Homo sapiens: one gene and its partners. The protein of the gene in region 3 purifies or fractionates together with the protein of the main gene of each other region. This does not show direct contact. Each region holds a gene or a part of one and is shown on either strand. Other genes may lie near its edges.

Evidence for each region. Proteins that work in one complex are often made in the same cells at the same time.
Region 1: the proteins of SLC30A5 (region 3) and DIPK1A purify together in Homo sapiens (affinity purification with mass spectrometry; one large-scale study listed by BioGRID and IntAct). This does not show direct contact.
Region 2: the proteins of SLC30A5 (region 3) and MGAT4B purify together in Homo sapiens (affinity purification with mass spectrometry; one large-scale study listed by BioGRID and IntAct). This does not show direct contact.
Region 4: the proteins of SLC30A5 (region 3) and PIGQ purify together in Homo sapiens (affinity purification with mass spectrometry; one large-scale study listed by BioGRID and IntAct). This does not show direct contact.

What each region holds. Positions count from the first base shown.
Region 1 is NC_000001.11:92,849,963-92,853,462, reverse strand, and holds part of DIPK1A (divergent protein kinase domain 1A), read left to right. Parts: intron 1-2,507; coding exon 2,508-2,615; intron 2,616-3,500.
Region 2 is NC_000005.10:179,800,489-179,803,866, reverse strand, and holds part of MGAT4B (alpha-1,3-mannosyl-glycoprotein 4-beta-N-acetylglucosaminyltransferase B), read left to right. Parts: exon of another isoform or gene 1-1,755; coding exon of another isoform or gene 1,756-1,897; coding exon 1,898-2,083; intron 2,084-2,172; coding exon 2,173-2,313; intron 2,314-2,399; coding exon 2,400-2,533; intron 2,534-2,913; coding exon 2,914-2,960; intron 2,961-3,269; coding exon 3,270-3,378. UniProt on the Homo sapiens protein: Glycosyltransferase that catalyzes the transfer of GlcNAc from UDP-GlcNAc to the GlcNAcbeta1-2Manalpha1-3 arm of the core structure of N-linked glycans through a beta1-4 linkage and participates in the production of tri- and tetra-antennary N-linked sugar chains.
Region 3 is NC_000005.10:69,121,514-69,125,013, forward strand, and holds part of SLC30A5 (proton-coupled zinc antiporter SLC30A5), read left to right. Parts: intron 1-180; coding exon 181-382; intron 383-1,685; coding exon 1,686-1,912; intron 1,913-3,500. UniProt on the Homo sapiens protein: Together with SLC30A6 forms a functional proton-coupled zinc ion antiporter mediating zinc entry into the lumen of organelles along the secretory pathway.
Region 4 is NC_000016.10:572,968-576,467, reverse strand, and holds part of PIGQ (phosphatidylinositol N-acetylglucosaminyltransferase subunit Q), read right to left. Parts: intron 2,403-3,500; 5' UTR 2,394-2,402; coding exon 1,705-2,393; intron 630-1,704; coding exon 498-629; intron 335-497; coding exon 214-334; intron 1-213. UniProt on the Homo sapiens protein: Part of the glycosylphosphatidylinositol-N-acetylglucosaminyltransferase (GPI-GnT) complex that catalyzes the transfer of N-acetylglucosamine from UDP-N-acetylglucosamine to phosphatidylinositol and participates in the first step of GPI biosynthesis.

The sequences.
Region 1 (3,500 bases), on a different chromosome or scaffold from region 3:
TCTGGGGCCAATCTGATTGGTTTCCCCTTAAAGGTGCCTTGATCTTTTTGCCTGGATGCTCAAAGGATAACTTATTTTTGAAGTCCAGTGAACCTCAGTGGGATATGTCACAGGGGTCATTCTTGTCAGTTTTTCTTGGGACATTCATTGTATGTCCTTTCAATCTATAGATTAAAGTGTTTTAATTTATGTGAAGTTTCCCTTGAATTCTACTTTGAATATTTTTTCTTTTCCACTTGTTCCCATTCTCCTTCAGTTCCCATTCTCCTTCATATGGACATGGTGGATATACTTTGTCTTTTTTATCTATACATTTATCTTAAATTCATTTTATTATTTTTAAATTTCCATTTCATTTTGCTTGCATTTCTCAACCTTGTCCTCCAAAGTTTTTTGTTGTTGTTATTGTTTTTGTTTGTTTAAGACAGGGTCTCACTCTGTCACCCAGGCTGGAGTACAGTCGTGTGATCTTGGCTCACTGCAACCTCTGCCTCCCAGGCTAAAGCGATCCTCCTACCTCAGCCTCCCAAGTAGCTAGTACTACATATATGTGCCCCCAAACCCAGCTAATTCTTTTGTATTATTTGTAGAGATGGGGTCTTGCTGTATTGCCCAGGCTGCTCTTGAACTCCTGAGCTCAAGCGATCTGCCTGCCCAGCCTCCCAAAGTGCTGTTATTACAGGGATGAGCCACCACGCCTGGCCTAGTCCTCCTAAATCTTACTGTGTTTTATCCCTGTCTGTCTTTCCCCTCATTTATAATGTGGCTTTTATTTCTAGATGTTTTATTTTCCTTCCTGTCTGAGTTCTGTTAGCTTATTTTAAACTTCCTTCTATTGCCTCATCATTTCTTCTGCTTTGAAGTCTTATTTTAAACTGGTTCAGTAAGTCCTTTAAATTCATAACAATATGTTTGGTCTGTTTCATAGCAACATTCTTCTAGAAATTTTTTTCTTTTTTTTTGAGACGGAGATTCGCTCTTCTTGCCCAGGCTGGAGTGCAATGGTGTGATCTCGGCTCACTGCAACCTCCGCCCCCGCAGGGTTCAAGCGACTCTTCCACCGCAGCCTCCTGAATACTTGAGATTACAGGCATGCGCCACCACGCCCAGCTAATTTTGTATTTTTAGTAGAGGCGGGGTTTCTCCATGTTTGTCAGGCTCGTCTCGAACTCCTGACCTCAGGTGATCCACCTGCCTCGGCCCCCCAAAGTGCTGGGATTATAGGCGTGAGCCACTGCACCCTGCCTAGAAAATTTTTTTTATCTGACATTTGCTTTTCCTATTCCATTCTTCCTAATTCTTGTAGATTTGCTGTATAGATCTTTTGCTTGTTTGGTTTTGATTATTACTCATTACTGAGTGAAATGAGGTCTCCTTCAGCCAGCCATGTGCGGGAAGCAACTGGGCAGTGAACTGAGCTGGTAGTGAAGCTGCTTCTGGCCCTCTCTCCCAACCGTAGTTCATCAACAGACTGCCTCCAGCAAAGAGAACATTTCTGAGCATTTTATCATTCAGGCCTGTCTTATCTTACTATTTCATGGTGCCAAATAGAGTTCTGGGAAGTTCCCACAGCTTGTGCCCCTTAAATCTTTGTTGCAACCAGGATAATGGTTGTGCTCTGCAGATGTACCACCTACTTGGTGCTCTGCCAACTTTGTCTGAGAGTGGGGACCACAGCAGGTGTTTAATCTCAGCATACTTGTAGGCTCTGGTGTAATCTTCACTGAATTTGGCAGGTCATCCTCATTTATTGTGCCTAGGGTTTCATTGGTACCATATTTTTTCAGAGAGTGGATGGGTTTTTTTCCCTTTCTTGTTTTTGGGTGATCTCAAGGATGACAATGTGACAGAGGTAACTTTATTTTGTTATTCTAAACTTTATTTATTTTAAAACCAGAAGTTTTTTTTTTTTTTTTTTTTGAGATAGGGTCTCACTCTCTCACCCAGGCTGGAGTGCAGTGGCATGATCTCGGCTCACCACAACCTCTGCCTCCCAGGCTCAAGTGATTCTTCTGCCTCAGCCTCCCGAGTAGCTGGCATTACAGGCGCCCGCCACCACGCCTGGCTCATTTTTTTATTTTAGTAGAGATGGGGTTTCACCATGTTAGCCAGGCTGGTCTCGAACTCCTGACCTCAAATGATCCACCAGCCTCGGCCTCCCAAAGTGCTGGGATTACAAGCGTGAGCCACGGTGCCTGGCCTAAAACCGGAACCATTTTTAAAGATAGAGTGCCTCTATTCTTGGAAGGAGTAGGTAACATACCACCTTAGACCATGTCATGTGGGAAAAATAGTTTCAAAATTCTACGCACACCCCAGCAGCAACAAGCTTTCTCATAATCATATAGGTATAAGTAACAGAGCTTAGATCAAATCCAGGTCTGTCTAAGTCCAAAGCCTCAGTTCTTTTTGTCATAGAACTTACTCATAAAGGATATAGATATCTCTTTATGCTTCTTCTTGTGAATATTTTTCTATTAACTACTTTTTTATTTCCTGGTTTTTAGTGTGACAAGTACAAGACTGGAGTTATTGATGGGCCTGCATGTAACAGCCTTTGTGTTACAGAAACTCTTTACTTTGGAAAATGTTTATCCACCAAGCCCAACAATCAGGTATGGCCATTATGAATAAACATTCCAGAATTATAGTGTACTCTAATTTTACCAGAAATTAAAGGCATTATTAAAAGAATTCTTGAACCAAAGCTTTGAGACATTATATGTATTTCAATTTTGTATGCTTTGATTCATTCATTAAACAGACATTTATTTTATTTTAATTTTTTGAGACAGGATCTGTTGTCCAGGCTGGAGTACAGTGGTGAGATCTCTGCTCACTGCAACCTCCACTTCCCAGGCTCAAGTGAGCCTCCCACCTCAGCCTCCCATGTAGCTGGGACTACAGGCTCACACAACCACACTTGGCTAATTTTTTGTATTTTTGTAGAAACAGAGTCCCGCCATGTTGCCCAGGCTGGTCTCGAACTCCTGAGCTCAAGCAATCCACCCGCCTTGGCCTTCCAAAGTGCTGGGATTATAGATGTCAGCCACCACACCTGGCCAGTCAAAAGATATTTATTAATCTATCCCCAGTATATTCCAGACACTGTTTTGTTTTGTTTTTTTTTTTCTGTCAGCACTTTGATGTTAGATGCTGTTTCAGTTACCAGGAATACAATGGTGATTAAGGCAACCTGGTGCGGTGGCTCACGCATGTAATCCCAACACTTTGGGAGGCTGAGATGGGAGGACCACTTGCGCCCAGGAGTCTGAGACCAGCCTGGGCAATGTAGTGAGACCCTGTCTCTCCAAAATTTAAAAAAAATGCCAGGTGTGGTGGCACACACCTGTGGTTCTAGCTACTCAGGAGGCTGAAGTGGGAAGATTGCTTGAGCCCAGGAGGTTGAGGCTGCAGTGAGCTATGGTCCCACCACTGCACTCCAGCCTGGGTGACAGAGTGAGTGAGTGTCTCAAAAAATAAAAAATAAAAATAAAAAA
Region 2 (3,378 bases), about 110 Mb from region 3:
GGGTGGAGGAGCTGGCAGGCGGGGGAGGCTGCCCAGGGCCAGGGCCTGCAGTGTGTAGGGAAATGACAGAAGGGTTGGTGTGGGCGGGAGCCCGTGGGGCCCTTTATCTCCTGGTAAACAGGACCCGGGGGAGAGGGGAGGCCCCTAGGAAGGAAGCGAGGGTAAGGCGCAGGCTGTTGCCAGGGTGATTCAGGCAGCATCACCCACCACTGCCCACCCAGCCTGTCCATCTGAGGCAGTCGTGTGGGACAGAGAAAGCCAGGGTGGGGCTCGGGGGTGGGGGTGGGCAGTGGCTGTAAGTAGGCAAGCGGGGACTGGCATCTAGGCAGGAGGGAGGCGCACCTGCAGGTGCAGGTGGCTCTGAACCCATTCCTGATGGCTCTCTAGGCCTCTGCACCTCCAGTCCCATCCCTGTGGGCGAGTGCTGCCTACACCTGGTGTCACCCAGCAATGGGTGAGCCCTGGGGATAGCCAGCTCTGCATTCAAGGGGTTAGGTTTCCAGGGTAACCGAGCCCCTGAGCCCAGCGTGGAGCCTGGCAGAGCCAGTAATCTGACTCCCCTTTCCCTCCCGCCAGGGGCTGTCCAGAGGCTCCGCTTTGCCTCAGCCTTTAGCCCCAGAGAGGCAGGGTGTGGAGGGTGGGGGCTGGCTTCTTGGGTAAGAGATGCCTCAGGGAAGATCTACCTGGCTCCCTGCTCCTTAAACCTTTCCCTCCTGCCCAGGTCCACCCCTTCCTCTTCCCTGGTCACTTGGCACTTCGACCTCCTGCCCGTTTCGGAAAGGGGTGTGCCCTGAGGTGACTGAACTTTGCCTGATCATGACCTTGATCATGCACAGGGCTGCTGGTGGGGTGAGGCCATCCCACGCAACTCTGGGGTCTGTGAAGCCACCAAGGATCAAGGAATGGAAGAGCTGCCTGAGTGTAGAGGGAGTTCGGTCAGGCTTCTTAAACTTGGAGACTTGGAAACAGAAGGCCTTGTAGGCCACATAGGTTTTCAGAGACTCGCCTGGCAGAGGCCTGGAGCGTCCTGCTGCGTGGACTGTGGGCACCGAGCCACCAGGAGGTTGTTGATCTCATTCTTGCTCACTGGTCCCTGCCAGACTGGTGGTGCCTCTCTACTGTCGGGCAGCCCCACCTCTGTGCTGCCCCATCCACCTACAGCCCTCATGCCTGGGCCCAGCTGGAGGTTCTGACAGGGGCCCCCTGGGGTGGCATGCGGACCCTTCAGGGTGCCCCAGGCGCAGCACAGGTCTCCAGAGACACAGGCACCAGGGCGTTCAGAGCTAGTCCCCTCGCTGCTGTTGACTGTCCTTGAGCAGCCCCAGGGCCGGTTTCTCAACCTCATTTGCTCACCTGAGCAATGAAGTGAGGTGGGCTCCTGGAACTGCAGCAGCCACCCCCCGGGGCCATCGTGAGGCTAAGAATCCAGTGCAGGGTGAGCAACCAGCGACCGCTACAAGGACAGTGAAGAGCTAGCACCAGGACCTTGGGTAGCCCACCCGCTGGAGGGAGCGTGTGCTGCAAAAAGCAAGAGTGGGCTTTGGAGGCCAACGGATGGAGCGGATTCAGTCTGAGGCTGTTCCAGCCCTTGCTTAGGATCCACCTACCTAGGTCTGGAAATCGTATTTCCACTTCAGATGCCTTCTCAGAGGATAAAATAACCCCCGGTGGGGGAGAGTACTGGAAGAGGGCTAATTCCCCTGGTTTTCTCCCCATGAGCATTAGTGTCAGTGTAATTTTAGAGTGACCCCAGCTATGTCACGTGTGGCAGGCACAAGAACAGATGTCAATGAGCTATTGCAGAGGTGGACACCCAGATGTGTGCGCTGGCACACTGGAGGGGCCCGTAGGGTGGCTCTAGACCGCCCCCTCGTGACGGCTTGCCTACCACCTGCAGGCGACGTTGTGGACGTTTACCAGCGGGAGTTCCTGGCGCTGCGCGATCGGTTGCACGCAGCTGAGCAGGAGAGCCTCAAGCGCTCCAAGGAGCTCAACCTGGTGCTGGACGAGATCAAGAGGGCCGTGTCAGAAAGGCAGGCGCTGCGAGACGGAGACGGCAATCGCACCTGGGGCCGCCTAACAGGTGAGGTCTGGGGCGGGAGGGGGAAAAGGCGGGGGCGGGCTGGTTGTAGGTTCCCTGGTCTCAGTCCCGATCCTTCCCGACCCACCCAGAGGACCCCCGATTGAAGCCGTGGAACGGCTCACACCGGCACGTGCTGCACCTGCCCACCGTCTTCCATCACCTGCCACACCTGCTGGCCAAGGAGAGCAGTCTGCAGCCCGCGGTGCGCGTGGGCCAGGGCCGCACCGGAGGTATGGGCGCAGACAGGGAGGAGCACGGGGTGGGGGGACGGGTGGCCCCCGCACCCTTTCCAGCGTCGGGCCTCCGTCCCCCATAGTGTCGGTGGTGATGGGCATCCCGAGCGTGCGGCGCGAGGTGCACTCGTACCTGACTGACACTCTGCACTCGCTCATCTCCGAGCTGAGCCCGCAGGAGAAGGAGGACTCGGTCATCGTGGTGCTGATCGCCGAGGCGAGTGAGCCGGGACGCGGGGTTGGGGGACATTCAGAGGAGCCCCCGCGGTGCAGAACTGACAGCAGGAACCATTCCGAGGAGAAAGCTGTCGGAAGTTCAGTTGCTAGTTTCATTCGCAAATGCTCCGAGATAGAAAGTTGAAAGGGCTTTCTGGCACCCTCTACCCCTACCCATCGCCCCCGCCACCCCCTAGTCCTTGGCCATGCGAGTCCCAAAGGGAAAGGGCCGTCTCTGGGGGCCCCCTTACTCCGCCCTCAGCACAGCAGGCTCACTCCCTCCACGTGGGGGGCATCTGAAGCCTGTGCCCCTTCTCCAAGCCCTTCCAGGCCTTTTGGGGCAGCAGCAGGGCTAAGGGAGGGTGCTTGGTCTCCCCACAGACTGACTCACAGTACACTTCGGCAGTGACAGAGAACATCAAGGCCTTGTGAGTACTGGCGACCCCAGAGAGCTGGTGGCGGGAGAGCTCGGTGCGGGGTGTTGTGCTGGCAGGTTCCTGCCTCCCCATGAGATAGTGCCTTTCCTATCTCGTGGGGAGGCAGGGACCTGGTGGGGGAGGGGTGGGTGTGCAGAAGTGGCCCAGCCCCTCTGGAGCTCTGCTACCTCAGTTGGCTGGGTGTAGGGGGTGGTGGGGGGCTGGCACTGGGTGAGCCTCAAGAAAGGGCCACAGTCTGGTGGGCTCGGCCCCTCTCAGCCCCTGGAGGCTGCATACGGACTAGGCCTTCCCGTCCCCCAGGTTCCCCACGGAGATCCATTCTGGGCTCCTGGAGGTCATCTCACCCTCCCCCCACTTCTACCCTGACTTCTCCCGCCTCCGAGAGTCCTTTGGGGACCCCAAGGAGAGA
Region 3 (3,500 bases):
CTAAAATGTTCTAAAATTCACATTTTTAAAATTTTGGACTTACTGAAACTTAGTAAGGTTTTACTGTGAATACTTTCAAAACTGTAAACAGAAAAACATATATAGCTATATAATAACTTTTAAATAACAAGTCTATTTTTAAATTACTAATTTAAAGGTTTTTTTTCTCCCTTTTGCTAGCCAGTCTCAGTTGGAGGGCTGATAGTAAACCTTATTGGTATCTGTGCCTTTAGCCATGCCCATAGCCATGCCCATGGAGCTTCTCAAGGAAGCTGTCACTCATCTGATCACAGCCATTCACACCATATGCATGGACACAGTGACCATGGGCATGGTCACAGCCACGGATCTGCGGGTGGAGGCATGAATGCTAACATGAGGGGTGAGTCCTTGCAAAATATTATCCTACTTTTCAACTGTGTTCTAAATCAACCCTCTGTGTTTATTTGTATTAAGTTTTGGGCTTCTGGTATGATATGATTTTTAAAAAGCAATCTGTGACTAAAAGAAAGGTCTGAAGCTATCACTATAGAAAATATTCTTACCTGAATACACATAAAATTAAATATTATTCAGCCTTTAAAAAGAGGGACATTCTGGCTGGGAGCATGGTGGTTCACGCCTGTTAATCCCAGCAATTTGGGAGGCTGAGGCGGGAGTACCACCTGAGGACAGGAGTTCAAGACCAGCCTGGCCAATATGGTGAAACCCTGTGCCTACTAAAAATACAAAAATTAGCCGGACATGGTGGCAGGTGCTTGTAATCCCAGCTACTCAGGAGGCCGAGGCAGAAGAATCGCTTACAGGTGTGAGCCACCATGCCTGGCCGTCACAGAAAATTTTTTAAAAAGAAAATGAGGCTGGGAACAGTGGCTCACATCTGTAATCCTAGCACTTTGGGAGGCCAAGGTGGGTGGATCACCTGAGGTCAGGAGTTCGAGACCAGTCTCTCCAACATGGTGAAACCCTGTCTCTACTAAAAATACATAACTTAGCCAGGTGTGGTGGCAGGCGCCTGTAGTCTCAGCTACTCAGGAGGCTGAGACACGAGAATCACTTGAACCTGGGAGATGGAGGTTGCAGTGAGCCAAGATTACGCCACTTTACTCCAGCCTGGGCAACAGAGTGAGACTCTATCCAAAACAAAAAGAAAATGAAAATATATTTGTTCTTAAATGTTAGTTTTTAAATGATTATAATTATATAGTCCTTTTCATAGTGACAGCTGAATAGATATTAGTTGCAAGGTAAACACAGTGTGCTATTATGAACCTTCATTACAAAAAGGAAATTCTTACTCCTTTTTTAGAAATTTTTATTGCACTATAAAAAAAATGGAGGAAGTACTAATCATTTATTTTGCTGAATTGTTTATTCTGATTGCTTAATATAAGTAATGTGGGTAATGTCAAAACTTGCCTCAAGTATGATTTTTGGGAAGCCTTTCCAGACAAAGTACACCATAAAATTTGGCACGCTGTGTCATGAGTGCCTATGTCCTTATATTTTTACCACTGTATTCTGAATTCCTTGAGGGCAGTGACCATGTTTTAGGCATTTTGAAGTACTAGCCAGTAGCAGAGTATGTGGTGCACAGTAGGTATCCAGTAATATTAGTAGAATGTATTAAAAAACTAAATTAGATGTGCCTTAATTTTTAATGTCCTTATATATTTTATTTGTAGGTGTATTTCTACATGTTTTGGCAGATACACTTGGCAGCATTGGTGTGATCGTATCCACAGTTCTTATAGAGCAGTTTGGATGGTTCATCGCTGACCCACTCTGTTCTCTTTTTATTGCTATATTAATATTTCTCAGTGTTGTTCCACTGATTAAAGATGCCTGCCAGGTTCTACTCCTGAGATTGCCACCAGAATATGAAAAAGAACTACATATTGCTTTAGAAAAGGTACTGTATGTAATTTCTTCACTACTTTCTTCCTTGAAAATCACATTTTTGAAGTCTTTGCTGGAAGTAAAACAGACAACCAAATAAATAATAAAACAAAACGAGGCCAAAAAAGAAATATAAAGTAGCATTTAAAATTTAATAAGTTGACCTAACAAGAAATATGCAAGATATAAATGAGAAAAATACAGTTTTACTTAAAGGATATAAAACAGGGACCGAATAGATGGATGAGATTTTCTTGGATGAGAAGACTCTTTATTATAATGATGTTGATTTTATTTTATTTAGATTTCAATTTAGTTGCCTTCATTGGATATTTTTGTTTATGGTTTGGGATGTTCTAAAATTATTTGGAACTTACTTGGAAGAGTTAGCGCTTGAGAATAAGAAAACATACATAAACTTACAGAATTAATTAATAGGATCCTACTTTGCAATTATAAAGTAGCAGAATTAAGTGACAAAACTAACAGTTTAGATCGAGACCATCCTGGCTAACAAGGTGAAACCCCGTCTCTACTAAAAATACAAAAAATTAGCCGGGCGTGGTGGCGGGCACCTGTAGTCCCAGCTACTCGGGAGGCTGAGGCAGGAGAATGGCGTGAACCCGGGAGGCAGAGCTTGCAGTGAGCCGAGACCACGCCACTACACTTCAGCCTGGGTGACAGAGCGAGACTCCACCTCAAAAAAAAAAAAAAAAAACCTAACAGTTTGGTCCTTGCACAAGAATAAAGACATAAATCAACTTTTAAAAAAATAATAAGTTCCCATTCTTGTGACCTGGGATTGTTTCCTGGACAGCACAAAAAAAAAAATAGTAACAATAATAATAGGTTGTCTGTAAAAGAAGAAATAATAAAAAATGAAAATAAATGAAGAATTATGGTATGTAATGTAAAAGAAGAAATAAAAATAGGTTGTCCAGAAACAGACCCAGGAGTTTATGGAATTCAGTATATAGCAAAGATGGTATTTTAGATCACTGGGGAGAAATAGTTGACCTAAATAACCAGCTTTTGGTTAATTACTTCTTTACTTTGTGGGGAAAAAAAAGCTATATCTCTATACCATATTATATAAAAATACATTTCCAGTGGATTAAATATGTAAATGACAAAAAAATTATGAAACTACTAAATAGAGAAATATTTTTGTTTGTTTGTTTTTTGAGACAGTCTTGCTCTGTTGCCAGGCTGGAGTGGAGGGGCGCAATCCCAGCTCACTGCAACCTCCACCTCCCGGGTTCAAGCGATTCTCCTGCCTCAGCCTCCCAAGTTGCTGGGATTACAGGCCTACCACACCCAGCTAATTTTTGTATTTTAGTAGAGATGGGGTTTCGCCATGTTGGCCAGGCTGGTCTTGAACTCCTGACCTCAAGCTATCCACCCACCTTGGCCTCCCAAAGTGCTGGGATTACAGGTGTGAGCCACTGCACCCCGCCAGAAAAATATGTTTATAATCACAAAGATAGGGAAAGACTTTTTAATATACTTGAAACCAGAGGCCAAAAAGGGAGGATAAAATTTACAAATTTGACCAGTTGAAAATTGCCAGTTGGTGGAAGATTTCATTAACAAGTATAAAA
Region 4 (3,500 bases), on a different chromosome or scaffold from region 3:
AGGAAAGGGGGGTGTACCTGCGAGGCCTGCCCTGCCCAGGCCCCAGCGCCCCTGGAGTTCCTGCTTCTGGTTCAGGGGAGGGCCGTGTCTCCAGAGCATGGAGAAGGTAGAACTGGCTTTGTGGGGCGGTGGCTCTGGCCCGGGAAGGCTCTGCTGCCCAGGAGGGGTCCCCACGCCCACCCGGGACACCGGGCTCCACCCCAGTCCACTCACGTCAGCCACAGGAACGAGGGCGTCGGCCAGATGCCCGATGCGGCTTCTCCCGTGGAGCCAGGACAGCAGCATGAGGCCCAGGGCCACGTCCAGCAGCACAGAGGCCACCGTGTTGGCCTTCCTGGAAGGGAGGTCCGGCCCGGCCGGCATGAGGGTGGCCAGCACAGCCTGGGGCCGCAGGAGGAGGCCTGCCTGGCCGGAGGGGTCAGCGTGGTGCAGAGGGGGATGGAGAAGGGGCCAGAGGGCACGCACCCAGCCCTGCAGAGACCAGGGCAGGCCCACACCTCATCAGCTGGGCAGGGTTCTCCGCCTTCCGTGTACTGAAGATTAGCGTGAGGTGCTCCAGCCGGTGCCGGAGCTGTTCGCACGTGGAGAGTTTGCTCCCGAGGAAGGACAGGGGCCAGAGCTTGAACACTCTGCGTGGGAGTGGAGAGGAGTGATGTGTCCCTCTCCAGATCCTCCTCCCACCGTCCCCCACTGTGCAGGGGACCACAAACACCCAGGCCACACTCCTGAGCTCAGCAGGACAGGGGGCAGGTGGGAGGGGCCCTCGGTGGCCCAGGTGGTGGTAGGCAGCGCTCAACGCGCCCACCTCACAGTGCACGTGACTAACACGGAGCCTGGCCTCCTCGCAGGTGCTGACCCCGGGCCACCTGGTCACCACATGCTCCCAGAGCCGGTGCCAAGAAGCGCCTGCCAGCCAGCAGCAACTCCCACGGGCCCAGGGCCTCGCCCCGCCGACAGGGCCCAGAAAGCTGCCCGGGGTCTCCTGGGCTGGCCTAGCTTCTCACCCCAGGCTTCCAGAGTATGCACCCCCGGGTCTAAGGCAGGGGGCAACTGCAGGTGACCCCTAGCTGCTCCCCATGGGGCACCTCCGCCAGGCAGATGAGGTCCCCTGTGGAAGGGGGCCCTCTGTTCTCAGCCACAGCTCGGGGCTACCCCCGTGCCCCTCAGGGCCCTTGGGCTTCAACTGACCCTTGGCCAGCAGCACCTGTGATTGTGGAGAGAAGCAGGGCCTGTAGACCACTCCCCCAGGCACACGGGGCCAGCAAGTGGATGACACCCCCACAGCCCATGAGCGCTGCAGTGTCCAGAGGCCTGCTGGGGGCACAGGCAGGGCTACAGGGAGGCCAGCGGGCCTGTGTGCCCTCAGGAGCACCCCCAGGCAGCAGTAGTCATGTCTGTGCTCACCTTCTGATTTCTCTTTCAGGGACCTAAGCCACTGAGGTTCACCCTCTACACCTTCTGGGAGGGCCCCTGGCAATCCCTGAGGCTGCCCAGAGACCTGGCTCTACCCCAGGGGTGAGGGACACCCTCTGAGAGGCGAGGGTTGGGAGAGCAGGATGGGGCCAAAGCCCGGGCTGCAGGAGTGGGAGGGGGCCCGGGCCCAGGAAGAGCGCATCTGGGCCTCTGTGCCCACTGCAGACAAAGGGATGGGCCAGCACTCATGGGACCCCACTCTTTGCCACCTGCCTGTCCCGGGACACCTACCGGCAGGCACTGACAGCTGAGACCAGCGACAGCAGGCTGGCCAACAGCAGGCAAATGGGTCCCGAGGCTCGCCTGGCCAGCTCCGCGAGGATGCTGGCCTCCACGCCCTCCGACTGCCAGTGGCTCAGCCGCACGGGGCCCTCATCAAAGCGGTCACTGCGGAAGAGCACCTCACTGCGTGCTACCGTGTCGAAGACGGCAGCCAGGCCCCCCGTGCTGGCAGTGGTGGCTCCAGCCTGGCGGTCGGGCAGGACGGTGGGCAGGTGTAGCTGTGACAGCAACACCTGGCGCTGGTCATAGAAGATGAGCATGACCTGGTCCTCACCAGGGGCACCGGGGGCAGTGGGCGCTTGCCGGTGGGTGGCCTCGCAGCTCCAGAACGTGCCGCCTCTCTCCCGGCACAGCCGCAGCCAGGGCTCATGGGGGAAGACAGCACCCAGGCTCTCCAGGAAGCGGCCCAGGCTCTCCTCGGGCTCCTGCCGGCAGTGGCACCAGGTGCCCAGCACGGCCACGCCCACCTGGCTGGCCTGCCGCACCTGGGCCAGGAGCTGCTTGACCTGGATGGGGATGAAGGGAAAGTGCAGGACCGCCAGGACCACGGCGCTGCTCTGCTCCGGCACCCACCGTCCCACCAGCAGCCCGCTGTCCGTCGAGACGCAGCACGTGGGGAAGAAGGCCTTGAGCACCATGCCGGGAGGCTGGAAGAGAAGAGGAGAGGCTCGGCTCAGAGCTGCTGCTGCCCCCCCACCGTGGGCTGCGGGATGTTGCACAGACGGCCTGACAGGTGCAGCCACAGGGCCCCAGGTCGGGGCACCTCAGCTTCAAGTTCGGTGGTGGACGCCGTAGGGCTCCTTGGCTGCCGCCTCGCGTGGGCCATGCTTCTCCAAGGGGCAGCCAGAGTGCTGGCCCCAAGTCCACCCCAGGCCCAGCTCAGCCCCACCCGCACGAGGCAGGACGCACATGCAGCCACCAGGCCTGCCCTCCCATTTCCAGGCCGGCCCAGGGCACGGCCTCCTCGGCACCACCTGACGCGGCTGTGGGGCCGAACCGAACTCCAGGCTTCTTAGTTTTAAGAAACCTGATTAGAGAGGTGTGCTTAAAGGTGTAGCACGAGGAGAACTGTACAATCTCATTAGCAAGGTCACGCCAATTGAAACCTTGACAAACCATGATTCACGTATTAAGCAAGAATAAAGATGAAAATGTAAAATGATGTGCTGCTGGGCTGTGGAAACTACCTCGTGCGCACGGCGGGCAGCCCCCCAGAAGGTCCCTGCCTCCCACAAGCCCCTCCCTGGGGGCAGGAAGGACCTGCCTCGTTGCTCAGGGCACACAGGGCTTCGGCCTCCACTCTGACCCCCGCCCACGGTGGCACCCGGCAGTGCCTGGCCCTCCCTGACATCCCCACAGCCACCCCAGGGCAGGGCTCCCTCAGGGAGCATTTTCTCTCCAGGATATATTTCTCCAACGACATGGGTGCCTAGAAACGGGGAGAGAGAGGCTTACAGGTCCCGGAGGTGTGGAGAAACTGCATCCTGCACTCTCAGGCTGAGGGACACCAGCCTTCCAAGGTGGCTGTTGAGTAGGAAGCCACCTGAGCTACCGCGGTTCCCAGGCCCTGGGCCTCTCCTCCCCCTTTCTCACAGGCCCCTGCGGAGCCATGCAGCCAGCTGGGGCTCCTTCTCCACTGATGCCTTCCCTGGCGGGGCCCCACAGGGCAGGAGGACTCCCTAGCGGTGGGGGCACTACTGGCCGGCTGGCTGGGCCGCTCGCCTTCCTCAGACACAGAAAGCCCC